Linked DNA regions of Homo sapiens. Each later gene encodes a partner of the first gene's protein in a complex. Each region holds a gene or a part of one and is shown in the gene's direction. Other genes may lie near its edges.

What was found.
Region 2: SRSF1 (region 1) and ARVCF share a complex: the UniProt entries of both Homo sapiens proteins name them as parts of the ribonucleoprotein complex.
Region 3: SRSF1 (region 1) and DDX5 share a complex: the UniProt entries of both Homo sapiens proteins name them as parts of the ribonucleoprotein complex.
Region 4: the proteins of SRSF1 (region 1) and TNPO3 are in contact, whole or in part, in a crystal structure (PDB 4C0O), measured with the Homo sapiens proteins. Residues at the interface, in NP_008855.1 of Homo sapiens: Ser116 (codon at 5,211), Arg117 (codon at 5,214), Arg118 (codon at 5,217), Ser133 (codon at 5,631), Trp134 (codon at 5,634), Gln135 (codon at 5,637), Lys138 (codon at 5,646), Asp139 (codon at 5,649), Arg142 (codon at 5,658), Glu143 (codon at 5,661), Gly145 (codon at 5,667), Asp146 (codon at 5,670), Cys148 (codon at 5,676), Tyr149 (codon at 5,679), Ala150 (codon at 5,682), Asp151 (codon at 5,685), Val152 (codon at 5,688), Tyr153 (codon at 5,691), Arg154 (codon at 5,694), Val172 (codon at 5,748), Arg173 (codon at 5,751), Asp176 (codon at 5,760), Asn177 (codon at 5,763), Arg181 (codon at 5,775), His183 (codon at 5,781), Tyr189 (codon at 5,999), Ile190 (codon at 6,002), Arg191 (codon at 6,005), Arg198 (codon at 6,026), Pro200 (codon at 6,032); in NP_036602.1 of Homo sapiens: His155, Arg157, Arg160, Thr167, Tyr254, Ile256, Glu257, Glu304, Glu340, Ile341, Phe343, Asn344, Tyr347, Arg348, Glu351, His352, Lys355, Thr356, Arg620, Asn656, Glu660, Arg661, Arg664, Arg667, Phe668, Arg671, Ser698, Cys699, Tyr702, Ile706.

What each region holds. Positions count from the first base shown.
Region 1 is NC_000017.11:58,004,246-58,011,586, reverse strand, and holds the start of SRSF1 (serine/arginine-rich splicing factor 1), read left to right. Parts: upstream 1-4,340; 5' UTR 4,341-4,449; coding exon 4,450-4,643; intron 4,644-5,059; coding exon 5,060-5,244; intron 5,245-5,613; coding exon 5,614-5,786; coding exon of another isoform or gene 5,787-5,840; exon of another isoform or gene 5,841-5,986; coding exon 5,987-6,181; 3' UTR 6,182-7,341. UniProt on the Homo sapiens protein: Plays a role in preventing exon skipping, ensuring the accuracy of splicing and regulating alternative splicing.
Region 2 is NC_000022.11:20,013,804-20,021,292, reverse strand, and holds the start of ARVCF (splicing regulator ARVCF), read left to right. Parts: upstream 1-4,469; 5' UTR 4,470-4,704; intron 4,705-7,489. UniProt on the Homo sapiens protein: Contributes to the regulation of alternative splicing of pre-mRNAs.
Region 3 is NC_000017.11:64,503,290-64,510,662, reverse strand, and holds the start of DDX5 (probable ATP-dependent RNA helicase DDX5), read left to right. Parts: upstream 1-4,373; 5' UTR 4,374-4,543; coding exon 4,544-4,587; intron 4,588-4,725; exon of another isoform or gene 4,726-4,873; coding exon of another isoform or gene 4,874-4,917; intron 4,918-5,820; coding exon 5,821-5,986; intron 5,987-6,344; coding exon 6,345-6,441; intron 6,442-6,546; coding exon 6,547-6,680; intron 6,681-6,794; coding exon 6,795-6,860; intron 6,861-7,091; coding exon 7,092-7,233; intron 7,234-7,314; coding exon 7,315-7,373. Other genes in the region: CEP95 (centrosomal protein of 95 kDa), read right to left, coding at 383-490, 1,943-2,234. UniProt on the Homo sapiens protein: Involved in the alternative regulation of pre-mRNA splicing; its RNA helicase activity is necessary for increasing tau exon 10 inclusion and occurs in a RBM4-dependent manner. Binds to the tau pre-mRNA in the stem-loop region downstream of exon 10.
Region 4 is NC_000007.14:129,045,102-129,052,121, reverse strand, and holds part of TNPO3 (transportin-3), read left to right. Parts: intron 1-7,020. UniProt on the Homo sapiens protein: Importin, which transports target proteins into the nucleus. Specifically mediates the nuclear import of splicing factor serine/arginine (SR) proteins, such as RBM4, SFRS1 and SFRS2, by recognizing phosphorylated SR domains.

The sequences.
Region 1 (7,341 bases):
GAATTTTCCTGTCTTGGAGAGAAATACTTTGCTGTGGGGGCAGGGATCGTTTATCAGGTCTCAGGATCTGAATGAAATATCCCTCAAAATGATTCACCTTGTTTTGTTCTTATTTCCAAATAAATTGTTTACTTGCTTTTTTGATGTTTTACTCTTGTGGACTGAAATATGTTAACTCTGGATAACTGGTAACATCCTTAATTGTAATCATCACAAAGCTAACGCCATCCTGCAAGACCTGATAAAACAGCCGTCAAGACTTTTCCTGCCATATACTGACCTCATCATCAACTCCAGAACAGTTGGTTACATTCAAATACAAAAAAAGATGCCAACAGAAATAAGAATGTCCTATTCACTCTCAATTAAGTTTTACTTTGTACTGTGCTGAACTGAACAAAATCAGAAATTACTGCATTAAATTAGACAAGAATAAATCAAAGCAAATTCAGGTTGGGTGTGGTGGCTCATGCCTGTAATCCCAGCAGTTTGGGAAGCCAAGGTGGGCAGATCACTTGAGGTCAGGAGTTCAAGACCAGCCTAGCCAACATGATGAAACCCCATCTCTACTAAAAATATAAAAATTAGCCAGGCGTGGTGGCATATGCCTGTAGTCCCAGCTACTCAGGAGGCTGAGGCACGAGAATCACTTGAACCTGGGTGGAGGATATTGCAGTAAGCCGAGATCCTGCCACTGTACTTCAGCCTGGGTGACAGAGCGAGACTCCACCTCAAACAAACAAACAAAAAGCAAATTCAATTATATTTTTCTGGAATGAAATTACCTTGAAATTAAAAGTACCTATGTGTATTGTCTCATCCCTTCTTAAAATGAACTATCCAATTATAAACTACTGATTTCAGTTATCACTTCAGTTATCATTGACTTATGATTAACAGAAGCTTTGCCTGCATAAATTTAAACTGATGTATAAAAGAACAGAAAGAAAATGTGTTCAGCAAATAACTGTTGAATGAAAGAATCAACAGGCTGCAAGTTTTTAAAAACTCTCCTCTTTTCTGCCATTCACTTAATGGAACAATGCTAGAAACAGTAGATTTGTTGAAATAGTATCTTTTTTGGTCACCTTCTCATTTAAAAACATATCAGGCTCTGGCCAGGCACAATGGCTCATGCCTGTAATCCCCCCACTTTGGGAGGCCGAGATGGAAGGATCGCTTGACTTCAGGAGTTCAAAAGCAGCCTGGGCAACATGGCGAGACCCCATCGCTACAAAAAATACAAAAATCAGTCTGAAGTGGTGATGCATACCTGTAGTCTCAGCTACGAAGGACACTGAGGTGGGAGAATCGCTTGGGTCCAGGAGGTCGAGGCTGCAGTGAGCTGTGATTGCACCACTGCATTCCAGCCTGAGTGAAAGAGCAAGACCCTGTCTCAAAAAAAAAAAAAAAAAAAAAAAAAAAAGCCGGCCAGGTGCAGGGGCTCATGCCTGTAATCCCACTACTTTGGGAGGCCAAGGCCGGAGGATCACTTGAGGCCAGGAGTTCGAGACCAGCATGGCCAACATGACGAAACCCCGTCTCTACTAAAAATACAAAAATTAGCTGGACGTGGTGGCTCATGCCTGTAATCCCAGCTACCAAAAATACAAAAATTAGCTGGGCATCGTGGCACATGTCTGTAATTCCAGCTACTCGGAAGGCTGAGGCACAAGAATGACTTAGGCCAGGGAAGCAGAGGTTGCACTGAGCTGAGATCATGCCATTGCACTCCAGCCTGGGTGACAGAGGGCAACTCTGTCTCAAAAAAAAAAAAAAAATATATATATATATATATATATATATACACACACACACACAAACACACATCTATATATATACTTAAAGGATGGTCTGAAGAATAGGCAATCTATCCTTCCCTTGACAAATTTCAGAAGTTCTTTTTCCTTTTGGGATCTATGGACTCCTTTAAGAAGTTGATTAAAATTCCAAATCCTCTTCCCAGAAAAAAGTACACACATGCATATAATTTTGTACATGCACACATGCATATAATTTTCGAAAATATTACAGAAAGCTCAAGGATTACCAAAGGTCATCTGTAGATATACCGAGGATCTACGGCCACAAGACCAAGCATCCCTGCTCATTTCAAATTGAATTTGTATTTTGGGGTCACCGAGAAACATTTGTAAAATATATTTCATCAGCTTTTAGAATTAAGAAAACATGTCCTTCTCCTGAATGACCTATTTACTTTTATCCCAAAGGCACTTTGGATTTTGAATACACAATACTTCTGTACCCTTCTTTACCGTGACTTCTGGGAAGACTAAAGTAAAATTTGCAATCTATCTCAACAAATTCAACGGGCTTTCACTGCAGGCATTTTGTATAGTAATTTATGCGTATTTCATTTAATCCACCCCTCATTTTCCCATTCCTCTGATTTCTTACTCTAGCATTTTTTTTGTGTGTGTGTGAGATGGAGTCTTGTTCTGTCACCCAGGCTGGAGTGCAGTGGCGTGATTTCCGCTCACTGCAGCCTCCACCTCCTAAGGGTTCAAGAGATTGTCCTGTCTCACCCTACCGAGTAGCTGGGATTACAGGCACGCGCCACCATACCCAGCTAATGTTTTGTATTTTTAGAAGATACGGGTTTCGACATGTTGGTCTCCGACTCCTGACCTCAGGTGATCCGCCCGCCTCGGCCTCCCAAAGTGCTGGGATTACAGGAGTGAGCCACCACGCCCAGCCTCATCTAGTTTTCATGTTTTATGGTATCTCTGTAAGTTGCCTCACATCCTTGCGGAAAGGGACTACTGTAAATAAATAACATGAAGAAAATTATCCCTTAAATTCAGTGTGTAGATCTGTTATGGCAAATTTATGACTGCAGGGTTTGATTTTAATTTGTTGTTGTTTCCCCCTCCTTTTTTTTTTTTTTGGAGGAGTCTCACTCTGTAGCCCAGGCTGCAGTGCAATGGCGCCATCTCAGCTCACTGCAACCTCCGCCTCCAGGGTTCTAGCGATTCTCCTGCCTCAGCCTCCCGCGTAGAGTGGATTACAGGCGCCTGCCACCAAGCCCGGCTAATTTTTTGTTTTTTCAGTAGAGACGGGATTTCACCATGTTGGCCAGGCTGGTCTCGAATTCCTGACCTCAAGTGATCCAACCGCCTCGGCCTCCCAAAGTGCTGGCGTGAGCCACCGCGCCCAGCCTGATTTGAATTTTAATTCATTAGCGACGTTTAAAAATCCCAGGATTTCACATAAAAATCCAGATTTCAGACGTCGAAAAAAAATGTAAAATGTTATCTCCCAATGCCGCAGGCAAACAGGATCACAGTCCTGAATAGCAACCGCGGTATCTAGTGGTTACGGTTCTCACATCCATTTTGCTCCATTTTATTACCTGAGAGGACCGGTATTTTCAAAACCTGGTGTATCAGTAACTTTTAGGGAAAACTTTTGAAAAAAGGACTGCACACACGCACCCTTTCTTCCTTCTCGTTCTTTGAAAGGAAACAACAGAAACGATTCATTCTGCAGGCATTCTGCGCTAGTCCCACGGACAGGCGACTAACAAGAGATAAAAAGGTGTGGGTCCCATAGGCGGTACGGTGTTACCCCTTCTGGTTGGCGGGTACCACGTTGCCGGTCGGGATACGGACCCACTGCGACTAGCACTAGGAGTGCTGACCCGAGCTATGCAAAGTTCTGACGAGAAGGCGGAACGGTACTTAATGAAGAGGATTAAGGAATCTAAATCGGTTTCGCTAAATTAGACACATCTGTCTAAGCAGCCACGGTCTATTCGCAGCAGGGGCGGGAAGACAAACCAACGCCCCAGCTCTCCGTTCAATCACCCGCAACTCAGCTCTGGATTAGACGCACCCTACGAAGATACCCGGGTTTCCGGAGCAACCGCCCGGGCCGTCCCCCTTTGGCCCCGCCTCCGAGACTCTTTCCCGCCAAAGGCCGTTATCGCCGCAGAGCATGGTGGGACAACGCTTTAGGCTAGGTTTCACCAAGTGCTTTGAAGGCGCCGAGTTGCTTTCAAAGATCCTCATTCCTGGAGAAATCGACCATCCTTCAAGACCCGACCTGGATGACTAGCTCCTTTAACGAAAGTTCGTTATTTAACTTTTACCAAACGGCTGGTCACTCTGTTCGCAAACCACCCCAAGCTGGGAACGCGGGGGACTTTTTTACCCCCTTCGTGGGGAGGGTGACGTCGCGCGTGCGTGCGCGTGCGCTGAACGTAGCCCTCGCAGCACCCGTTGCGCTCCCGCGCGTGCGTGTTGGGATCGAATCGCTGTTTCCTTCCGCTTCTCTTCCTCTGTCTCCCCCCCATATCCGTGCGCCGAGCTGATAAAGGCGCCATTTTGGAGGGGCCGCGGGAGACGTGGTGCCGCTGCGGGCTCGCTCTGCCGTGCGCTAGGCTTGGTGGGAAGGCCTGTTCTCGAGTCCGCGCTTTTCGTCACCGCCATGTCGGGAGGTGGTGTGATTCGTGGCCCCGCAGGGAACAACGATTGCCGCATCTACGTGGGTAACTTACCTCCAGACATCCGAACCAAGGACATTGAGGACGTGTTCTACAAATACGGCGCTATCCGCGACATCGACCTCAAGAATCGCCGCGGGGGACCGCCCTTCGCCTTCGTTGAGTTCGAGGACCCGCGGTGAGGCGGCATGGGGCTTGCAGCCTTGAGGAAATAGGTCCGAGTAGTTGGGGAAGGCTCCAAGGCCTTAACATAGAGAACGGGGAAGCGGGGGCTCTTAGAGAGGTTGGGGCGAGACTGTATCGCCCATGCAGGAGTCGAGTAAGGAGCTGAGTTGATGTGGCTTCTCTGGCGCCTCGCCTTGGACGTCCCCGGAGCCCATTCGCAGGCTGGAGCGGGAAACTGAGGCGCTGAGGGCTGGTGTAGTGGTTGGGAGCCTGGCGTGTTTCTGGGTGGGGGAGGGGCCATTCCTATTATGCGGCGCATGTGGGCTCTTCCACGTTGGGTGCGCATGTGCGGGGGGTTTGCTGGTTCCCAACTGAGCGAGCTTCTCCTCCTGGTGTTTCTCATCCCTTTTACTTTCTGCGATCCCGCAGAGACGCGGAAGACGCGGTGTATGGTCGCGACGGCTATGATTACGATGGGTACCGTCTGCGGGTGGAGTTTCCTCGAAGCGGCCGTGGAACAGGCCGAGGCGGCGGCGGGGGTGGAGGTGGCGGAGCTCCCCGAGGTCGCTATGGCCCCCCATCCAGGCGGTCTGAAAACAGAGTGGTTGTCTCTGGTGAGTGTACTGGTTGTGTGGATTGATGTGAAGGGACGAAAACTACCTAAAATTTTTCTCTTGCGTGACAGGTTTAATAATTGCAAATTTTTCATGCTAGGTCTTAAATTGCTTTAGTTTTTGGGTGAATTTAATAAACGAGGATTGCTGCTGTGGTGATTTACCAAATTAGGTTGCGGTACTAGATACGAAGATCGTTACAAATAATTTTGGACTCTGGATTCCAGAATCTTACCAGCTCTCTTTACCTGGTATCACTTAAGTACACCTATTAAGTACTTTAAAGTACTCTTTGTCCTAATGTACCTTACCAGCTTAACGTGAAATTTAAGATAATTGGTACTAAGAAAAAAAAAATCACTTTTTCAGGACTGCCTCCAAGTGGAAGTTGGCAGGATTTAAAGGATCACATGCGTGAAGCAGGTGATGTATGTTATGCTGATGTTTACCGAGATGGCACTGGTGTCGTGGAGTTTGTACGGAAAGAAGATATGACCTATGCAGTTCGAAAACTGGATAACACTAAGTTTAGATCTCATGAGGTAGGTTATACACGTATTCTTTTCTTTGACCAGAATTGGATACAGTGGTCTTAACAGTGGAATTTCAAGGTAAGGATTCAGGCAAGGTTGTCCAAGTAAATTGCCAGATTTCTGGTTTTAGTTACATTGTATTCATTCAGCATGTCTGAAGATAGATGAAAGCTTAGATCTTTCAATGGAAAGTTCTGTCTATCCAATAGGGAGAAACTGCCTACATCCGGGTTAAAGTTGATGGGCCCAGAAGTCCAAGTTATGGAAGATCTCGATCTCGAAGCCGTAGTCGTAGCAGAAGCCGTAGCAGAAGCAACAGCAGGAGTCGCAGTTACTCCCCAAGGAGAAGCAGAGGATCACCACGCTATTCTCCCCGTCATAGCAGATCTCGCTCTCGTACATAAGATGATTGGTGACACTTTTTGTAGAACCCATGTTGTATACAGTTTTCCTTTATTCAGTACAATCTTTTCATTTTTTAATTCAAACTGTTTTGTTCAGAATGGGCTAAAGTGTTGAATTGCATTCTTGTAATATCCCCTTGCTCCTAACATCTACATTCCCTTCGTGTCTTTGATAAATTGTATTTTAAGTGATGTCATAGACAGGATTGTTTAAATTTAGTTAACTCCATACTCTTCAGACTGTGATATTGTGTAAATGTCTATCTGCCCTGGTTTGTGTGAACTGGGATGTTGGGGGTGTTTGTGGTTATCTTACCTGGGGAAGTTCTTATGTTTATCTTGCTTTTCATGTGTCTTTCTGTAGACATATCTGAAGAGATGGATTAAGAATGCTTTGGATTAAGGATTGTGGAGCACATTTCAATCATTTTAGGATTGTCAAAAGGAGGATTGAGGAGGATCAGATCAATAATGGAGGCAATGGTATGACTCCAAGTGCTATTGTCACAGATGAAATTGGCAGTATTGACCTTATACTAAAAGGCAGGGGTTAAAAATGATTATATACATTTTCCTTAAAACACTTGCAAACATTTTATTCAGTTGTCTTTAGCTACAATTGCTTTGCTTTTTAAACCTTGGCAATTGTGGCAAAATTATATTGCCCATTTTGTAGCAACTTATTTTGCTCCCTTCCCCCCATTTTTGTTTTAATAGGGACTAATGTGGGAAGAACTGGCTAATTTGTCACAGTGCTTAGTTACAACTGTTAATGTGTGACCTGCTGTTGGTGTACATGTGGGTACAGGGTGTTTTTAAATCCAACAAGATAGAGTATAATATCAATACTGCTAAATCTGCATGTCCTCTGTGTGACTGATAGAGCGTTGCTATTTCATTTTTTTAAGACAAAATGAAAGCAAAATATAGAGTTCCAATGTATTGGTGTAGATAATCTAGTTGGGAATACTTTTAAGTCTCACCTTCCCCTTTAAACTAATATTCATAATTGGTTCATATGTTTAAAAGACTTTAATTTACAAATTAAATTGCAAATGGGAGCATTAGATTTAGTTTTAGACTTAGGTGGGTAGCAATGCCAGTAAACTTAAATTACGTAACTTCTTGCAACCACGAAACCTGTAATACGCTGTACAGTA
Region 2 (7,489 bases), on another chromosome or scaffold:
AAGGGGAAACTGAGGCAGGGTGAGGAAGTGCGGCCAGCCCACCCACCTTCAAGCAGCCTGGCCCGGTCCGCGCACCCAGAGCCCAGAGCCCGGAGCCCCCGAGCCCAGGCCGGCCGGGCCACTAGCGGAGTCGGCCAGCCCCGGAGCCGCGCACTCACCGCCTCCGCCACCGCCGCCGACTTCCGGGTGCCGCGCCCGCGCGCCACCGCAGCCAGCCCAGTACCGCCCAGCCCGAAGCCGGCGCGTTCACCATTGGGCCGCGCAGCGAGGGGCGGGGCGGCGCGCCGCATGCCGGCGTCCCGTTGGCTGGGCGCGCTGTCGCTCGGAGGCTGCCACCTCCTGGCGCCCCGCCCCCGGGGCTGCGCCAAAGCTTCGGGCTGCGCGGGCGTCTGAGCGCTTCCTGATCCAGCGGCCTTCGGGGACTCCGCGGCTCCCTGCCTGCAGGGACGCCATGGGAGGTCGCAGCCGCCCCTGAGTCCATGCCCTCATGGACACCATCTGTCACCTGCTCACCCTGCGGCCTCTCTCGGAAGAGGTACAGGAATGCTCACTTCCGGACTGGCCCCCTCAGACTGCGTCCTGGTCTCCCCATCCTGTTCACTCAACCCCACCTCTGGACCTGGCCATCTTCCTCTTGGTCATCCCTTCCTTCACTTTATGGCCTCCAGGTCGGCTCTTTCCTCCCTGATGTCCCTGCCATTCCCAGTATGTACCCCCAGACCCTGGACTAGGCATTTGAGCACTATACCCTGCACACCCACCACCTCCCCCACTTCCACCCCCCAGTGTAGCCTTTGAGCTCACATCCAGGTCCAGGCCCCAGCGACGAGGGGCTGGCCCAGCTTGACTTGTGCAGGGTGAGCAGGTGGGCACTGACTGGGGCCCTCCCAACAGGACAGAGGCATTAGCTGGGACCGCTGCTCCTGTAGCCTCTGGGCTGTGCCTGGGCCTATGTGGCAGAAAGGTGGAGAGTCAAAGCCCAGAGGCTCAGGCCCTGCCTCAAAGTGAGCATTCAAAAAACTATGACATGGATGACAAAGACATTAGGGATAATGATAATGTGTAAAGCACTCTAAACCCAATGTCTGGGTCAGCAGTTCTTTCATCCCACTTTATAGATGTAAACACTGAGACTTGGAGCAGTTATGTCATTCAGTTGAAGTTGAAAAAGGTGGCAAGCAAGAGAGGCCACATTAGCTTCAACCTGTGTTGAAGACCTAGGTGCCCTGATGCCCTGCAGAAAACTGGGGCTCAGGGATGGGAAGAGCCTGGCTGGTAATCAGCAACGGCAAGAGTCTAACCTGGACCTACATGCGGGCCCGTTGTGCTCCACACTTTTGCTATCTTATCTGTGTTTCCCCTGGAACCCAACAGAACCTTTTACAAGGACTCCAGATGCCCAGGGACTCATGGCCAGCGGGCCGCAGACCCAGCCAGACATGGTTGTCTCTCCCACCATCCAGCAGTGGGATCATGTGGGGCTGGTACCAGTGATTTCCCTCTGAGCAGCCAAACCTATGCAATCTATAGGGCCAAGAGGTGGTGGTGGTGGACAAGTGGGATCTGGGGCTTGGGGGTGATGGACTGTGCCCTGGGGTTCATGGCAGCACCTGGAGAATGGGCTTCCCCAAAGCACCAGGCCATGCACCTCAAAGCTGGACATGAGTTGACCAAGGTTTCCCTTTGCCCACAAAGAGGGATGCAGTAACATGTCAGATGGTGGTTTGCATCCTGTTCTGTCATACCTTGTGGCCTTGGGCCATCCCCACCCCCAGCCATACTTTTCCCAGCTAGACAGAGCCAGAGCAGACACTCTGATCTTCTTTGTCACCACTGACACTCCAGTCTGGATGACATGCGATGCCAGGAAGCAGGTGACGGCAGATGAAATGGGTCTAGGATGGGCACCTAAGCCCTGGGATCTTGGGGCTGCAACAGGCTCACTGGCATCCAACCTCTAATTGCACACAAACTCAGATAGGAAGCTCACTACCTTCTGTGGCCACTCTTTTGATTTCAACAGCTGCCACTCTTGAAAAGTTCTTGACACCCAGCTGAAAGCATTTTCTCTCTGTGGCTTTCTCCGGGGGCCTCACAGCTGTCCGCATGGAGCTAGGTGAGAGGATGAGAGAGGGAGAACACTGGGCTACTGGTCCCTGTGGTCTCCCTTGCTGTGTTTTTCTTATCTTTTTCTTTTTTCCTTTTTTTTGAGATGGAGTCTCGCTCTGTCTCCTAGGCTGCCGTGCGGTGGTGCAATTTCAGCTCACTGCAACCTCCGCCTCCCAGGTTCAAGCGATCTCCTGCCTCAGCCTCCCAAGTAGCTGGGACTATGGGCGTCTACCACCATGCCCCGCTACTTTTTTTTGTATTCTTTTAGTAGAGATGGGGTTTTGCTATGTTGGCCAGGCTGGTCTCGAACTCCTGACCTCTGGTGATTTGCCTGCCTTGGCCTCCCAAAGTGCTGGGATTACAGGCATGAGCCACTGCGCCCAGCCTCCCTTGTTGTGTTTCTGACCCCTGGCTGCAGCCTAATGGGCCGACTGCTGGACAGCGGTCCTGAGTCCTGTTTGAATTGGTGCTGCCCCGACATCCTCTGACCTCAGCTAATGATCCTGCCTGCCGAGGGCAGACAGGTCTCTGCAACCCTATGGGTGGTAGGGGTGGTGATGAGAGGAGAGGTAGTCTCACTTGCACAGATTTTGGTGTATGGTTCTGTCTTTTGCACTCTTTCAACAGAGGTCTGTCCAGTCCCTCTTGCAAGTGTGGGGAGGGGGTGGTGCAGGACTATGAGGTAACTGTGAGAAGAGGGGCTCCAGCAGAACCAGGGTCCAATGGCCTTGAAGAGATGGCTGGGGACAGCTGGACTCATTACGTCTACTCCTAAATGGAGGAAACGACCCCTCAGCTACACAGCACCTGAGCCAGAATGTCACCATGGTGCTGCTCCACAGGATGACAGCTACCTGGTTTGTGAGGGCCCCTATTCTAGGGACAGCTACTTCATTCTGCCCTCCCAGAGCAGCAAGCAACAACCCTATGCCAGGAGGCCAATTGGCACGTCAAGTGCCAGCTCCAATCGATTGATAGTAGCTGCCTGGCTCTGAAAGGCAGCTGGGATCGATTCACCATGCTGCCAGCACACAGATGGACCCAGCGGTGGTCCCAGCAGTGAGTTCTTGCCTTGGGCCATTTCATTTTCTTTGTCCTGGCCAAGGAATGATTGGATGAACACACTGGACTCCCAATATGGGTGGATAAGACAAGAGTGTCTGGTCACACCCCTCCACCACTCATAAGCATGGTTGTGGGCAGTTTGGTTCCCCAGGCGGCCTTGGAGAATGCAATGAGCCGAGGAACTGGTCATCTCCAGGTGCATCCAGGGCAGGAAAGGATGACAGCATGCGTGAGCCAGGGTCACTGGCTAAGAAGTCATCTCAGGACCTCCCCCTAGAAAAGCCCACTGGGCAGCATCCCTGCTGGTTCCCCCCTACACCACAAGGTTACGCAGAGCTGGCGGAGGGTCATGGTCCCACTCATGTCAGGTGCTCTTAATCTGGCAAGGAAATGTAACCTACGTGAATCTCAACAGGCAGTGAAGCACCGTTTCTTCCTGACTCCAGGTAGGGTGAAGAAAATGGGACAGTAGTACGGGGTGCGGGCATAAACGCACAACTCTGCCTCCCCAGACGCAGAGCTGTGGGGCTGTGAGAATGCCAGGAGGAGGTAAGAAAGGGCGGCCCCATGGGGGGCCTGCAGGGTGGGACAAGCCCAAGAGGTCTCTACATCCAGGCCTGGTGGGGGAGGTGAGCCCCTGGTTTACCGAGGGGGTCCCTTCCTGCCCTCGGAAATACTGCAGCTCCTACCTCCATCGTCTCCCCGCTGCGGGGACCCAGGGGCGTGAGGATGAGAGAGCCCCCAGGCCCCAGGGTCAGACGACTGTGTTCAAGCAAGTGAGAACCTCTCTGAGGCTGTTTCCCAACTGTAAAATGGGGATAGCAGCAGAACTCTCTCTCGCGGCTTGCGTGAAGAATACAATTCGATGTCGACAGGAGGGAGCGGCGCGCAGCGCGCAGCGAGTAGCAGGCGCTGAAGAAGGATACCTGTGAACTGGGAGTGGTGGCGGAGGCTACGCGGCCAGAGTCCGGGGAAGGGGCGCCGGCTCTGCCAGTCCCTGCTCGGGGCTGGATGGTCGGGGGATGTTCTCGTAAGTCGGCTGGGAGGGAGCGGTCCCGCGTACCCTGCCACCGCCGCCGCAGAGGTTCGGGCAGGTGCGGGGCCGCGGCCCCTCCGCGAGGGGGCCGGTCATCCGCCGGGACTGACATCCCGGAGGCCCAATGGCAAGCCGTCATCTCCGCGCATCCGCCCAATCGGCGCCGGTTGCCGTGCCGCGCCGGGTCTCTCGACCAATGGGAAAATTTGCTGTCAGATGGGGCGGGGCGGAGATTCGCGTCGCCGGCCCGGTCCGCTTTGCGCACGGGCCGCGTGAGGGCGGGAGGGCTGGCCCGGGGTCTCGGGTTGCGCGCTGGGCCTGGAGGGAGGGGGCGGCCCCCGCACCGGTCCGAGTTGCGGCCGCGTGGACTGCGACCCGCGCCGCGCCGCACCGCGCCGCGCCCTGGGAACGCCGCTCCCCGCGCGCCAACGGACCCGGGGAAGCCCTTCTGGGGTCCGAGGCCGCGCTGCGGGGCCGCCCACGCTGCGCTCCAGGTAAGCCTGAGCCAGTGGGCGGGGTGTGGGACCCGGGGCTGGGGCCTCGGGTCGGAGCCGGGACTGGGGGCGGGGCTGCAGATATGGGACGCATTCCGGGCAGCGGTCCGGACAGGGTCCTATCCCTGGAGTCGAGATCCGGGCGAGGGTCTGGGCCGGACGTCGGAGCCAATCTCCGCCCCACCCGCGTCTTGTCCGCGCGCTCTGCGGCGTCCGAGACCCCGGGCCGGCGGGGGCGGGTCTCTTTGTGCGTGGCCTTGGGGCCCTACCCTACCCGTCCGGGCGTCTTGCACTGAGCACTCCAGCCGAGCGCGGCCCGACCCCGCAGCCGTGCCCGCCCCGCGCGACGCTTGGCGCCTAGCTGCCAGGGCCCTGCAGCCGCCGAAACTTTCCAACAGCCCGAGGGGCGGCAGGCCGGGAACTTTCCTGGGGCAGCGCGCCGCCGGGAAGCTCAGGGGCACCGACGGCCCGGAGGTGTCCTCGCGCCGCGCTGCTCCTGCCGCCTCGGGGGTGAGAGAGGGCGCGCCACCCGGACCCCCGGCCTGGGTCCCCCTCCCCACGCCGCCCTGCGCCCCCTCGGTGCCGGTGCGGAGACATGTCATCTCCACTCTGAGGGAGACTGCTCGGTTTGCTGGGGAGTCGCCCTGGGCAGGTGGCCTGAGAGCTCCAGCCTATTTTAATTTTTAAATAATTAAATATTGGCTGCTTACAATATTTCACCGTTTCTTAGCTATGTGTAATGTAACATACTTAAAATGGAACTAAAGGACTTCAGCTCCCTTTCCCTACATCCAGGCATATTTAGAAATAAGGAAAAGAAAGGTGCCCCGTGGGTATTTTTTAGAGTAGGCTCTTAATGCTGCTGTCTAATAACCTCAGGTGAGTACCCAGGCTGCTGTGGGGGAAACCTCCCCTATGGTATGGGCCAGGGGGGTGCAGTGGGAGCCTCCACCTCTCCCGACCTTAGCTTCTCTGGGGTAGCTGCCTTTACTTCTTCCTACTTCTTAACTACTGCCTTATCTGCCTTTACTCTGGGATCTGGGCGGTGTTTAGAGGTCTGGTCCAAACAAGGCAGGTGTTACCTATCTTGTACTCACTCTATTGGAGCTGGGATGGTGCTGAATGCAGGGGGGCAGTCAGCGCTCTCTTGCCCGGTGTGCCATGCCAGTGGCCGGTCAGCTCCTAAGCAGGTGATCCAGGCCTTAGATCAGGCGACAGTGTGAGCCGCAGCGTGTCTGGGAAGGCATTTCCCCCAGTCTTGCCCCATCCTATCCGCAATGTCTGCTCCCAGCTGTCCCCTGTCCCCACCCTACCCCCATTCTGGGGTCCACCAGCGCCCAGCAGAGGACTGGGCACAGAACATTCGCTAAGGGACTCAAGTCCCAGCTGAGAGGGTAGTTGAGCACAGCCAAGCCAGCCCCTGCCCAGCTCTTGGCTGAGCTGCCCTGTCAGGCTTTTCAGCATAAACACAAGGACCTTCTGACCAAGGTTCCTCCTGGGAGAACAAGTTCTGACCCTCAATCCTGCTAAATTTGAGTCTCCCCACCCACCACATCTGGGCTGCTTGGCTCCCATGTTTGCTCTGGCACTCCCTCCAGAGGTGGCCCTGTAGTCTCCCCCCAGTCCCGGGGCCCTCTGCATCTCTGTGGCTCTGTGAGGGTAGGGTAGCACCCCTCCTTCTGTTTGTGCTACACAGGGATTCAGGGTGAGTTCCCTGTGCTCCTTCACCCCAGGAGTCTGGCCTGGGGGAGCATGAGGCTGTCCTGAGTAAGGACAGAAGGTGCAGGAGCAGCAGGATCCCCGGTCTCTGGGTGGAGCAGGGAGCTCTGCACACGGATGCCAGGCACCACCCTCTGTCCAGCCCATCTGTCGTGCTCCCCGCCTGGCCCTGGCAGAGGGAGTGACAGGGTAGAGCTGGGATAGGGAGTCAGGGCCCATTCTGTAGACAGGGCCAGGAATGGAGGGTGGGGGTCCAGGGACAGCACTGCAGAGCACCAGCTGGGCCTTGGGGGTCCTGGGGACTTCCCTGATGGTGGCTTAGTCATGGGGAGGTGTCTGTTCTTTTGTCAGCAGCTTCAATTAAGACCAGAATGAGGCCGGGCGCAGTGGCTCATGCCTGTAATCCCAACACTTTGGGAGGCCAAGGCAGGTGGATCACCTGAGGTCAGGAGTTTGACACTAGCCTGGCCAACATGGTGAAACCCTGTCTCTACTAAAAATACAAAAATTAGTCGGGCATGGTGGCATGCGCCTGTAGTCCCAGCTACTCAAGAGGCTGAGGCAGGAGAATCGCTTGAACCGGGGAGGTGAGGGTTGCAGTGAGCCAAGATCACACCACTGCACTCCAGCCTGGGTGATAGAGCGAGACTCTATCTCCAAAAAACAAAAACAAACAAAACAACCAGGATGGGCTGGTCACGGTGGCTCGTACCTGTAATCCCAGCACTTTGGGAGGCCGAGGCAGGCAGACAGATCACCTGAGGTCAGGAGTTTGAGACCAGCCTGGCCAACATGGTGAAACCCTGTTTCTACTAAAAATACAAAACAAATTAGCTGGACCTGGTGGCATATGCCTGTAATCCCAGCTGCTGGGGAGACTGAGGCAGGAGGGTTGCCTGAACCTGGGAGGCAGAGGTTGCAGTGAGCCAAGATTGTGCCATCGCACTCCAGCCTGGGTGACAGGGTGAGACTCCGTCTCAAAAAAAGAAAAAAAAATACCCACAAAAAAACAAACAGAAAAACCCAAGATGAAGTCTTGGGTCACTCTGAGGGGACTTGGGATCAG
Region 3 (7,373 bases), 6.5 Mb from region 1:
TGAGAGGATCACCTGAGCTTGGGAGGTTGAGGCTGCAGTGAGCTGTGATTGCACCACTGCACTCCAGCCTGGGCAACAGAGACTCTGAATCAAAAAATAAAAATAAATAAAACAACATAACATAAAAACAAAAAACACACCTCAAATTACCAGCTAGGATATTTACGTTTCAGACCCAGATCAATTGCAAAATCAATGTTCAGCTCTCCTGGAAAAGTTCTCATGTATGGACCTGACCTCTATCAGTTGATTGTCTTAGCTCAATCTTACAATTTGGTCTACTCCATAAGCTCACTCATTTGGTTAAGTAAACAATGTCTACAGTTCTAACAATTATTTTTACTAAAATGCATAATTATGTGATAGTTATACATATACCAACCTGTTATGTGAGACAAGCTGACCTGCAAGTAGTCCAAGGCCAGTGAATCAATTACTGCTTGTACATTGTGTGCATCATCTTCTTGACTCCTAGGAATAACTATGAGGTCTGGGGGGGGAAAAAATCACATAATTTTGTATCCATGAGAGGCCAAGTTTTCATCTCATTGTCTCTGACTAGGCTACTGAATATGCTCAACTGCTATAAAGGCTCTGCCCAAACAGAACATGCTGTAAAGTACAGATAAAGTTAATAAACCCTGAACTCTACACAGCAGAATCTTTACTGGTTGAGTATTTATTGATTGAACCGATTTATCAATATTAGACTGGTTGAATACGGTTGAATATTTATTACACCATATATATATATATAGATATATAGATATACATGAATATGCTTTACAAGAAGCACCATGTTAAGGAAGATAAAGTGGTCCCTAAATTCAAAGACAGCTAATAGTCTAATAAGGGAGCCAAGACATGATACTTTAACCCATAACTATGGGCTACTTTCTACGAAGAAAAAAAAAACACAGCAGGCATTCAAGGAGCGTTCTTATATATACACATATGTATGTTTATTTATTATTTATTGAGACAGGGTCTCGCTCTATCGCCCAGGCTGGAATGCAGTGGCGTGATCTTGGCTCACTACAACCTCCACTTTCCCGGCTCAAGCAATTCTCTTGCCTCAGCCTCCCAAGTAGCTGGGTTTATAGGCGTGCACCACTATGCCTGGCTAATTTTTGTATTTTTAGCAGAGATGGCATTTTGCCATATTGGCCAGGCTGGTATTGAACTCCTGGCCTCAGGTGATCCACCTGCCTCAAGTGATGAGCCTCCCAAGGTAATGGGATTAGAGGTGTGAGCCACCGCGCCTGGCCCTTATATGTCCTTTTGAATAGCCAACTAGAATTATTGGTATAAAGATTTAAAAGGTCAGCACAGGCTGGACGTGGTGGCTCATGCCTGTAATCCTATCACTTTGGGAGGTAGACGGGAGGATCACTTAAGCTGAGTTGGTACCACCCTGGTCTTGAACATAGTGAGATGGTGAGCAAGATGAAAGGACATATGCGCTTATTAACTGTCTTGGTAAATGAGGTTCATCATCTACAAGCATCAATTCTTATCCCTAGCACTGGTTAAGTAACAGAATCCAATAAATTCCCAAGCTCCACTCAATTTTACAACCTTTGAAGGTACATTTACAGAAAAGATGCAACTTTCACAAGGCAGTAGCCATGATTAGGTTAAGCCGTGATTATCAGGAGCCCTCAAACTGATCTGCTCAAGGCCGTTATTATGAGTGGGTTCCACAGGGTATTCCTTAAGGAATACAATATTATAATTATACAATATGTGATATTAAATACAATTTAATATACAATATTTATTTTAATATTGTATATTAATATAGAATTTAATATGCAATATTAAAAAAAGAAACAAGCAAAGAGAAAATGAAATTTTATAAATATCAAAGAATCTAACTAAAGGACTAAAAACTTTTGGCCTAAGATATAGGCAAAATTACTCCTGCTTTTAGTATTCTTACCTGGTACCTTTTCTCCCAAAATAGACTGATAAAGAGCAATAAAAACATTAGCATCACAGTCTTGAAGTTCATGTATTCTCAGATGTATATGACACTTAAAAAGAAGGTTATTGGCAATGGTTACCCACTCTGTTGGGAAAAAGGGGGAAAGATCAGTCTTAAAAACCACCAGAAAAAAATCACACAGACATTTAAAAAATCCAACAACCTCCCCCCCAACAAAAACAGACACTGAACTTTGCAGAAGATAAGGAATTTGATTGTTAGAGAATTTCAAAGACCCTTTAGGCATGGTTTTTAAAAAGATGTATTTAATTTCTTGGGATGATTTCCAGAGTGCTGTAATTTCTACATAGTCAAAACTATACTGCAAATTCAATTGATACTGTTGCAGCCTAAAATCTTAAGTTACTTATATAAGCCTTACATGGGTGTTTTTAGTTAAAACATATTTACAAGTAAACAGGAATATTATGTCATAAACAACAGTTTAATGATAATCCGAGGTTACCAGAAACTCATTAATGGAGGCTGCTTCGCACTTGCAATAGTATTGGTCTTGTGTTTACCCAATTATCTTGTGCAAGTCAGGGTTTCTCTGGTGCCGGAAAAAGTGGTGATTAAACTTAGGCTGTTAAGAACTGGTATAATAACAACATCAACGGTAATGCATTTGTTAGTTTTTCTTTTTTATTATATCGATCTATATGAAAGAAAATATGGGAAGTACATGAAGCTCAGAATTATCAATACTGTTGACGTTTCCTGCGTACCACATTCTCCTCTCCCCTAGATATTGCTGGGATTTGCAAAGTTTAACGGTTTCTGTACCAAAAGTAACTTAGCTTAAAATACTTGTTCCTTGAAATGCCTGGGAATTGGTAGGAAAGCACTTTCAATCGGTATTAGAAACAAACATCTCCACTATGTTCTGGACACGTAACGTTCTGGAAACGAATGAGAGTGTATTTTCCATGCACATAATCCCCCTCCCCACGCCCATTTCTCACAGCTGGCCAAACCATGACAACTGGTTTGTACGCAGTCCTTGTGAAAAGGATGAAAGCGTCCTAGACAACCAAATTAATTCGCTCTTCAAAAGCGGTGCTAGACAAAGCCCATGACTCTAGAGGGCACTGAAGAGAAAAAAGCACAACTATTCTACAGGGGCATATTCTACTATTCTGCAGGGGCATAATAAATCTTAAGAATGCTGTTCCTTTAAAGACCAATACAAAAGCAGGTACGACCTCAGGGCCCATAGTGCAAGGGCGGAGGGCACACGGACAGCGGCTAGACGCCCCACAGAAAGACAAGTCCGGGGACGACCCTTCTGACCGCTCTTTTTACAGCCAGGACCCAAGTGTCCTACCGGCCTCGCCCCAGTGCCTCTCTCTCTCCCACAGCATACTGCTGTTCCACGGCCTCGAAGCGAAGAGGTGGTGAAGCTGAGAGACCCTATCCAGGGAACCCGCCAGCGCGACGCGGCGTCTGAAGGTCACGAGCCCCGCCGACAGCCCAGACCCAGTCCGGGCTAGCCCGAGGCCTCCCTGGAGGTGGACGGTTTCAGTCCACACATACTGGGACCCCAGGGAGACACTCACCAGCATCCGAGCCTGCCATGTTTCAGAGGCAGGTCGCCGCCGGACTCCGACGCGGCCGGGAAGGCGACGGTGTCCTGGAAGGACCGATCCACGCAGACCCGACACTGGGGCGCGGACGCACGAACCAAAGCGCGGGGAAGGAGGCGTGAAAGAAGGACGGACGTTAAAAGAGCTTCTCGCCGCTGATTGGTCATCAGAGGAGCACTTCCTTTCACAGGACGTGAAACGGGGGCGGTTTGGGAAGTTTAGAGACCATTCTCCGCCGACCAAAACCCGTCAAAGGATTATCAGACACGCGGGTCGGACGGTCCACATCAGCCGGCAGCCCGGGCGGGTCCCGGGGTGCGAGCAGCGCACTTCCGGTGAGCTATTTCGTTTTGTATCCCTCCGCCGACGTCAACGGGAAAGTAGTGCGGACCGCTCTCTCGGTGGTCCGGGGTGGTACAGCCACGTGACAACGCCAGGCCCCGCCTTCCCCCTCTTTTGGTTACAGACGTGAGGGCTCTTTGGAGACGTAAACATCTCCGAGTGGCGAGGGTGGGCGGGGCTGGGCTTGGGAAAGGGCGGGGTGGCTTGCTTGAGGTGTGGAAAGACCAGAAGAAGGTGAGGTCAAGAGAGTGCAGAATGAGGCATTCCAATGGTGGGTGGGCCCTGACCTGAGAGAGTGGCGCGGGGAGGGGTGAAAGCGCGGCGATCCTGGAACGCCAGCGGGCGTTGCGGCCTATGCGCGAGGGGCGGGGCGATTAGGTCATAGAGCGGCTCCCAGCGTTCCCTGCGGCGTAGGAGGCGGTCCAGACTATAAAAGCGGCTGCCGGAAAGCGGCCGGCACCTCATTCATTTCTACCGGTCTCTAGTAGTGCAGCTTCGGCTGGTGTCATCGGTGTCCTTCCTCCGCTGCCGCCCCCGCAAGGCTTCGCCGTCATCGAGGCCATTTCCAGCGACTTGTCGCACGCTTTTCTATATACTTCGTTCCCCGCCAACCGCAACCATTGACGCCATGTCGGGTTATTCGAGTGACCGAGACCGCGGCCGGGACCGAGGGTGAGTTTGGGAGCCGAGCTGTCAGGCCTGGCGGGTGGGGGGATGGGAGGGCGGGTCAGGGTGGCGGCCGGCGGGGGCTTTGCGGCTTGGACTTGGCCTTTCCGGGCTATCTTGGGACTTCCTTTCCCGAAGGCTTGCGCCATTTTGATATTCACGTCACAGTGATTGGAAGAGATTTGACGGTGTAGTGTCTTCAAGCTTGCTTTTTGTGTGGGGATTGGGGAGCTGTCGGGGCGGCTGCCATTTGGTAGCTGTTGAGGGAGTTGAGAGGGAGCGTATTGTGCGGATGAAAGCGGGACGCTTCGAGGCAGACGAAGGAACATCTGTTAGGTGCGGCGTTTCGGGAGGTGTTTTTGGGGTGGCCGGGCATTCTGTGGGAGCGAGGGGACCACTTCCAAAGCCCTGGTGCTGTTGGGGTAGGAGGGCGGCCGGCATCAGCCATGTGGCTGAGTCGCGAGTACAAAATGCCGGCCTCGGACATGGCGGCGGCGCCTTTGTTACCCCGCCCGGCGGAGGAGCTCAAAATGGCAGCGTCGAGAAAATGTGGCGCAGAGAGAAATGCGAGACAAAGGGGGAAGCGCCGCCCCAGCGGGAACGCCGCCCGGCCGACTCCGCCCGGGCCGGGACTCCTCCCCCGGTAGTCGCCGGCTCCTCCTTTTCTTTTTTCCTGCGTTATATAATTTTGATTCGTTGATCCGGAGCTCTACCGCGGCGTTCCCCCAGCTGGGTTTGCTAGCAGAAGTGTTTCTGAGAAAACCCTTGTTCTGTTATCGCTGACTGTACTGTTTAGGTTCTTACCACTAAAGCTGTTTGGTTCCAAAACGGCCATATGAGTAACATCGTCGTGATGCTCTTCGGTTCATGTAGCCTTGTTATTGCTGATAGTGAATTGCTAGGCTGGTGGGGAAGATTACAGTAACCACAAGAAGTGGTGTGTGCCAGAATCCCAAATTCTGGCATGTGGGTGACAAGTTTCCGACATGATAAATCCCCGGCTTCCGACATGATAAATCCCAGGCTGTTTACATGACCTAAGTAATGTGTACTTGGGACTACGGGAAATGTTAACTGTGGCTGTTGAGAGAGAGAGAGATTTTCACGAAGGACAGTGCTAGGTTTACCTCTCGAAGTCTGTTTTCAGTGGTTTTTAGCTTGTGCCAATGGATGACAAATCTATACAGAAACCTGGGTATAGCCATTTGAAAATGTGAATAACGTTTTTTTTCATTCCAGGTTTGGTGCACCTCGATTTGGAGGAAGTAGGGCAGGGCCCTTATCTGGAAAGAAGTTTGGAAACCCTGGGGAGAAATTAGTTAAAAAGAAGTGGAATCTTGATGAGCTGCCTAAATTTGAGAAGAATTTTTATCAAGAGCACCCTGATTTGGCTAGGCGCACAGCAGTGAGTAAATTCATGTGGCTTCATCAGGCTGTAACTCGATCGTGGATTCTAGTAAATGAAATTCTGACAGGTGTTTTGCAAATAACTCAATTTTGGTAGAGTTACATGTTCTGACTTCATAATTGGGAAAGGTGTGACTCACTTTTGGATATAGGTGGCTTTGGGATTTTTACTTAAATTAGGTTGAGTATAACAATAAATTTTTTTTTTCATAATAGGGTGTTCATAGGTGGGTCCAGATTAAAATGAAGGCTACTTTAAACTAGTTACTAAATTATGAAGTTAGGGGCTTATCAATTACGTATTTAGCTAGGGGTGGTTGTCATGAATTTTAAGACTGTTATAATTTGTTTTGCAGCAAGAGGTGGAAACATACAGAAGAAGCAAGGAAATTACAGTTAGAGGTCACAACTGCCCGAAGCCAGTTCTAAATTTTTATGAAGCCAATTTCCCTGGTAAGTGCTACTTTTCAGTTCTACCTACCCGTGTTTTTGTTTCCACCTACCCCCTCTTTTTCTTGGCATCACTAATTTTTACTAAATATCTGTTACTAATTATAGCAAATGTCATGGATGTTATTGCAAGACAGAATTTCACTGAACCCACTGCTATTCAAGCTCAGGGATGGCCAGTTGCTCTAAGTGGATTGGATATGGTTGGAGTGGCACAGACTGGATCTGGGAAAACATTGTCTGTAAGTTTGGGAGAACTCTTGAGTTGATCTGATATATGCAAGAAAATGTAATGGTAATTTAAAAACGAGTATTTTAATGTGATTTCTGTTTGTCCCCACTTTCACCCTAAATAGTATTTGCTTCCTGCCATTGTCCACATCAATCATCAGCCATTCCTAGAGAGAGGCGATGGGCCTATTGTAAGTATATATTTTTAACTTTTTATTAGAAGCATAATGTGTAGATTTTAGACTACATAGCTAAAGATGTAATCATTTGTGGTGGTTTTATATAGAGGTTAGCTCACCCTATTCAGCTGGAGCTGTTTTGGGTATTGGACAACACATGAAGAAAGGATCTGCTAGTATAATAAGTTAGCAGTTTAAAACTAGTATCCAGGTTTGTGCTGAAAGCTGTTTCTCTTTCCTTAGTGTTTGGTGCTGGCACCAACTCGGGAACTGGCCCAACAGGTGCAGCAAGTAGCTGCTGAATATTGTAGAGCATGTCGCTTGAAGTCTACTTGTATCTACGGTGGTGCTCCTAAGGGACCACAAATACGTGATTTGGAGAGAGGTATGTAATGAAAAGGGTTTTATTTGTCATTGGTGCTAAATATCCTAGGTATTGTAGTTACACTTACGTATTTAATTAAAGGTGTGGAAATCTGTATTGCAACACCTGGAAGACTGATTGACTTTTTAGAGTGTGGAAAA
Region 4 (7,020 bases), on another chromosome or scaffold:
AAGTGGATCTGGAAAATATCCAGCAGTAACACATCACGTTTAGGCAACTTCAGCATCTGGATTGACAGTTCAGCTAACACTTTGGCCTTCTGATTCCTTTACCTCTTCATTCTCTTTAGCCACCTGGTCACACAATCACACCCTGGATCTTGTCTTTACTAAAAAGCCACCACCCAGGCTGGGCGTGCAGTGGCTCACGCCTGTAATCCCAACACTTTGGGAGGCTGAGGCGGGCGGATCGCTTGAGGTCAGGGGTTTGAGACCAGCCTGGCCAACATGGTGAAAACCCGTTTCTACTAAAAATACAAAAATTAGCTGGGCGTGGTGGTGCGCACCTGTAGTCTCTGCTACTCAGGAGGCTGAGGCAGGAGAATCTCTTGAACCCAGGAGGTGGAGGTTGCAGTGAGCTGATATTGTGTCACTGCACTCCAGCCTGGGCGACAGAGCGCGACTCCATTTCAAAAAAAACAAAAAAGTTGCCAGCCAGGCCAGGCCCATTGGCTCTTGCCTGTAATCCCAGCACTTTGGGAGTCCAAGGTGGAGGATCCCTTGAGCCCAGGAGTTCAAGACCAGCCTGGGCAACATAGCGAGACCTCATTTCTACAAAAAAATAGGAAAATTAGTTGGGTGTGGTGACATTTGCCTATAGTCCCAGCTACTCAGGAGGATCCCTTGAGCCCAGGAGTTCAAGACTGAGTGAGCTATGATTTCGCTACTGCACTCTAGCCTGGGAAACAGCAAGATTGTACAAAAAAAAAAAAAAAGTCACCACACCTCCAAATCACTGATTCAGACATTCTGCTGTGATCATAACCCACTGTTTTCCAGTTTGCTGGCTCAAAAATATCAAATAATGTCACCTAGTTTTTTTTGAAATCTTTATGTAGTTTTACTAATATTTAAGTTTTATTTTTAAAACAAAATTTTGTGGAACCTTTTTTTTCCTGTTGGTAATCAAATACCTCTTTTTTTTTTTAACATTTTGTTTTCTGGGTATCCACAATAAGTCACCCTCAAATCTCAGTACTGTAAATATCCTCATTGTTCAGACTGGTGATTTGTTTTCTTTTTTGGCTAAAGGAAATATGTATCCCAAGAGCCCTCCATTTCCCTGCTCCAGTCTGGCCTGGTTCGCTAGGTCTGTTGGATAATTACTGTCATGGGATTCCATAAACACTGTCCTAGGGAATTCCCTTTGCCTCTTTGTTGTGCTGGATCCACTGATTCTTGGATTCCATGATGTTTTCTTGGGTTACTCTTCCATTTAATGGATCATCGAGAAGGGAACCTTCATCCTTTCTCTCATTGCTTTTCTGTTGGTCTGTTTTTCTTGGGCTGCTTTTACCTTGAGTTCTCTAGTCAGCCTGGGGGTTATAAGCTAGACTGCCAGTGTTCTAAAGCCAGTTCAGGGAATGAAGCCAGGGGATGGATCTCACAACTAAGTATGTAGGTTTTAATTTAATCTCTTGTTTTTCAGCATGATACTCCTGTCTTTAGCTGAGTCTGTTGTCTAAGAGTCCAGAGACCACCTACTTCAATCTTTCCACAGTAAACCTTGAGTCTTCTGTTATGGTGGGAGAGTAGTAGCCTGGTTGCTCAGAGTCAGAGAGGAAATTTAGGAGTCTACTGCTTCTTACACAGATTTTGACCCTTTTATTTATTTAAACTTTTTTCTTTTTTTGTTTTAAGGCTGCATTACTAGCCGATTCCCCCCCCACCCTTTTTTTTTTTTTTTTTTTTGAGACAGAGTCTCGCTGTCTCCCAGGCTGGAGTGCAGTGGCGCCATCTCAGCTCACTGCAAGCTCCGCCTCCCGGGTTCACGCCATTCTCCTGCCTCAGCCTCCAGAGTAGCTGGGACTACAGGTGCTTGCCACCATGCCCAGCTAATTTTTTGTATTTTTTAGTAGAGACAAGGTTTCACCATGTTAGCCAGGATGGTCTCGGTCTCCTGACCTTGTGATCTGCCCACCTTGGCCTCCCAAAGTGCTGGGATTACAGGCATGAGTGACTGCGCCCAGCCCACCCCACCTCACCCTTTTTAAAAAAAGAAAAAAAAGAAAAGAAAAGTTGGGGTCTCGCTATATTGCCCAGGTTGGACCCGAACTCTTGGTCTCAGGCAATCCTCTCTCCTCAGTCTCCTGAGTAGCTGAAATTACAGGTGCACACCACCACATCCAGCTCCACTCCTTTATTTTTTGTTCCGCCTGTGCATCTGCCTTCAGATGTACCTGTGCTTCCAATTCCCCAGTCTTCCTGGGTTTTGCAACATGAATAGTTTGTCCCTTGCCTTCCCTATTCTCGTCTCATCCTCCCTCCCCACCCCCAGGCAAATATCAGCCTTTTCGGATCTGCTAAGACAGTTAACACTGTCCTTTAGCTTTCCAGTTTCCACAGTTCTATTGATATCTGTCACCTGTTTCCATTTTCTTTGTCTTTATGTGTTTTTGCCTTTTTTAAAAAAGATCTTTACTCTGATTTTTATTGGATTTTTGGAAGGACCTGAAAGCAGACAGCTGTGTTCAATCAGTTAGTTTAGTCATTTTAAACAGAAGTCCCTGCATTAGTTCTTGAATTTTATCAAAACCTCAGTTCATTGACTGTTCCTTACTTCTTCTTTATTAGGTCTTCTTGTTTTTACTTCTCTCCTTACCAAATGTGGATTCCAAGATCTATCATTCTAGTCATTTTATAAATACACCATCACCTTTCCCCTCCAATTTGGTCAGACTTCAGCATGGTTGTATGCAGCTGCTTCTCCTCTTGTCAGATCTAGGTGCTTTGCATCTCTCAATCTTCTGAAATTTCTGGGACCTTGATCTTTTGGTTTATCCTATGTCTTGTCTGCATCTTTAGACTCCTTTACTGAGTCTTTCCCATCAGCATCCAAATAGCTGAAATATTTCTCATAGTACACAAATATTTTGGGGTAGAGTGGATGCCGCCTTTGCCCAACTTTACTTTCTTCTCTGCTTTTACCCTTTCCCAACCCTTTCTTCAAATGCAGAAACTAACTCATCTTTTGAAAGCCCAACCTAAATTCTGCTTTCTCCTTCAAGGCTTACCTGCTTCTCTTCAGCCAAAAGTGATTTCAGCCCCCAATGAATGCCTAGAGAACTTTACTTCATTGTGTTTGCCTTTTTATAAACCTTTTTGAAAATAAGTGTTTTGCCTCCCCTACTAGACTGGGATTCTTGTCACATTTGTTTATGTAGTCCAATACCCATAGTTGAAGAAATAAACCATGGTTATTAAGATAAACAATCAAGACACTTCACACACAGGTTCTTAAAAATGTTGATTGTCAGAAGTGCATACATGCAGATACTCAGTTGGATAACTCACATTTTTCTTTATCTGCGAGTTTTATTTATTTTTGCTGTCACTTTTCACCATATACATGGTTAAAAATAAACAATATTCAGCACCTTTAATGCTCTTCAGTCTTTCCAGTCTTTTTTTTTCTTTCTTTTTTTTTTTTAAATCCTTTATGAGATGTATATGTTGCCCTCATTTCATACTTGCAAATATTCAGGTACAGAAAGGGAGAGGAACTTTTTGACTCAATAAGGCTCTCTTTGTTTATTTATTTTTTGAGACAGAGTCTCACTCTGTTGCCCAGGCCGGAGTGCAGTGGCACCATCTTGGCTCACTGCAACCTCCGCCTCCTGGGTTCAAGCAATTCTCTTGCCTCAGCCTCCCAAGTAGCTGGGACTACAGGCACATGCCACCATGCCCGGCTAATTTTTGTATTTTTAGTAGAGATTGGGGTTTTGCCATGTTGGCCAGGTTTGTCTCAAACTCCTGGCCTTAAGTGATCTGGCCGCCTTGGCCTCCCAAAGTGCTGGGATTAGAGGTGTGAGCCACTGCACCTGGTCTATTTATTTAGTTTTTTGAGACAGGGTCTCACTCTGTTACCCAGGCTGTGGAGCGCAGAGGTGTGATTACTGCTCACTGCAGCCTTGCTCACCTGAGCCTGGGTTCAGGTGATCTTCCCACCTCAGCCTCTTGGACAGCTGGGACTACAGGCATGCACCACCATACCTGGCTAATGTTTTGTATTTTTTGTAGAGTCAGGGTCTTGCCATGTTGCCCAGGCTGGTCTCAAGCCCCTGGGCTCAAGCACTTCTCTCACCTCAGACTCCCAAAGTGCTAGGATTACAGACATGAGTCACTGTGCCTGGCCAAGGCTCTCTTTAAGTGGTCACTAAATGGCATTTGTAACCAAAAGTAATGTGTGTGGTGGTTTTTTTCTTTCCGGAAGATTTTGTCTACTGGAACAAAAGCGTGTTTTAACTGTAGTAATAACTATAGTGTTTTAACATCCATTTGAAATTGGTAAGGCATAGAATTTGTGTGGTTTGCTAAAAAACTACTTTCAAGAATATGTATTTGTGAAACTATTATCCTTATTCTTCTCTACCACCCCACCTAACTAATCCGAGAGTAATTGAGTATAGTTCGAATGACCTGGTGACAGTAGACGTGGTATAGAGGTATAATTTGAATATGCTTTAGCCTGTACTGTGAGTTAGCATCTTTTCTCTTTCTCTAATATTTGTATAAAACAGCCATTTTCTGAAGAATCTGTATTCATTGCTCTAAACTTCCACCAAAATTTTTGGAGATGTACAGCCATGGTTGTTTTATGTGATAGATAGATATCACTGATAACTTCAAAGTGTTCTGAAAGAGAGTATTTTGAGGCAGATCTTAAAGGAATCTTAGTAGCCTGTCCTGTATATTTAGTAGTTTCATTTGTCCACCCCTACTAACCAAAATTAGTAGAAGTTGTAGAGAGCTATTGAAGGAAAGACCATCTCTTCATAGGGCCAATTACTTAAGCGACTCAGTTATAAGTTTTTAATTTAAGTTGTAAGTAGGAGATAACTTTTACAGAGACAATCTTTGGGTTAGATATTACCTCAAAAGTTTTATAGTTCAGTATGGAAACTGAATAGGCATGCTTCAGCATGGGTGTATGCAGCTTTTTGATGGAAAGCATCAAAAGCACAAAGCAGATGAAGTAAAGTCATGCTTTGATAGACTAAGTTGGCATTGTCATGTTTGGTTTATCACATGTCCATAGGAATTTTCTTCTTAGATATCATATCAGAAAGGTCTTGGGTTGATATGGTTTGGCTATGTCCCCACCCACATCTCACCTTGTAATAATACCCCCCGATTTGTGGCAAGGTGGGGCCAGGTAGAGGTAATTGAATCATGATGGGGGGTTCCCTCATACTGTTCTTGTGGTAGTGAATAAGTCTCACAAGTTCTGATGGTTTTATAAATGTGAGTTCCCCTCCACAAGCTCTCTCTTGCCTGCCGCCATGTAAGACGTCGCTTTGCTCTTCCTTCGTCTTCCGCCATAATTGTGAAGCCTCCCCAGCTATGTGAAACTGAGTCAGTTAAACCCCTTTCCTTTATAAATTACCCAGGCTTGGGTATGTCTTTATTAGCAGTGTGAGAACACATTAATACATGGGTCATGGAATATCAGCTTCAAACTTCTTTGCTAGTACTTTTCCTTTTTGGAATTTATTGATTCTTTAGCCTGGTTATAAAACCTAGGGTTTTTGGCTTTTCTCTGGTCATTACTGATTTATCTTGAAAGTTTAGGCATTTTTTGTGTGTGCTTATGCTTGCACCTTCCAGTCAAAACATGCTTTTGAAAGGAAAGCCTTCTAGAAAATAGAAAATATTCCTATACAACTTCAGTAGATGAGTTCAGTCTAGGAATACTCTGTGCCTTGCACTGATAGAAACTGGGAGTATGTAAATAATGAAAACCAAAGATCTTTCTCCCAGAGAGTGTACCAATGTAGCTGTGTCATCCAGTGTAGTAGCCACCAGTCTAGTGTGACTATTTAAACTTAAAATTAAGTAAAAGTTAAAATCAGTTTCTTTTTTTTTTTTTTTTTTTTTTGAGACGGAGTCTCACTCTGTCACTCAGGCTGGAGTGCAGTGGTGCAATCTTGGCTCACTGCAACCTCCACCTCCCGGGTTCAAGCAATTCTGCCTCAGGCTCCCGAGTAACTGGGATTACAGGTGCATGCCACCATGCCTGGCTAATTTTTTGTATTGTTAGTGGAGATGGGGTTTCACTGTGTTAGCCAGAATGGTCTCAATCTCCTGATCTCGTGATCCACCCACCTCAGCCTCCCAGAGTGCTGGGATTACAGGCATGAGCCACTGCGCCCGGCCTAAAATCAGTTTCTTATTTGCACTTACCCACATTCCAAGTACTGTACGGTACAAATATAGAACATTTCATGTCTTTGAAGTATTGGAGTCTATGTTTGTGATTTTGTGACAGTATTTCTGTTGCCATGGTAGTCTGTTATGTGGTGGCATTTCTCCATATTTTGATTAGTTTCTTGTCTTGCCAGGCCTTGGGCCAAAGTTGATAGTTTGATTTAGGATGTAAAATTATCAGGGTACTACTATATTTTCTAATTACAATAGTTTTTCCAAAGTTTTTCAGATATTTCTTCAGCATTCTTTTACAGTGATTGATTGCACTGATGTTTATGGAGGAAATGGAAAGTAGGTTTTATAGATTTTTTTTTTTTTGTGGCAAAACATTCAAAACATAAATTTAGCATTTTAACGTTTTTTTTTTTTCTGAGACAGGGTCTTGTTCTGTTGCCCAGGTTGGAGTGCAGTGGTGCGATCATAGCTCACTGCAGCCTTAAACTCCCAGGCTCAAGCTATCTTGCCTCCTCAGCCTCCCAAGTAGCTGGGATTACAGGCATGAGCTACCGTGCCCAGTCATTTTAACCATTTTTAAGTGTGCAGTTCAGTGGTATTACATACATTGACATTGTTGTGCAACCATCACCATCATCCATCTTCAAAACTTTTTCATCTTGTAAAACTAAATCTATGCCCACTAAACAAAATAGGTGCCCATTTGCTCCCCGCCCCAATCCCTGGCAACCACCATTCTACTTTCTGTCTCTATGAATGTGACTATTCTTGGTACCTCATGTAAGTGGAATCATACAGTATTTAGCCTTT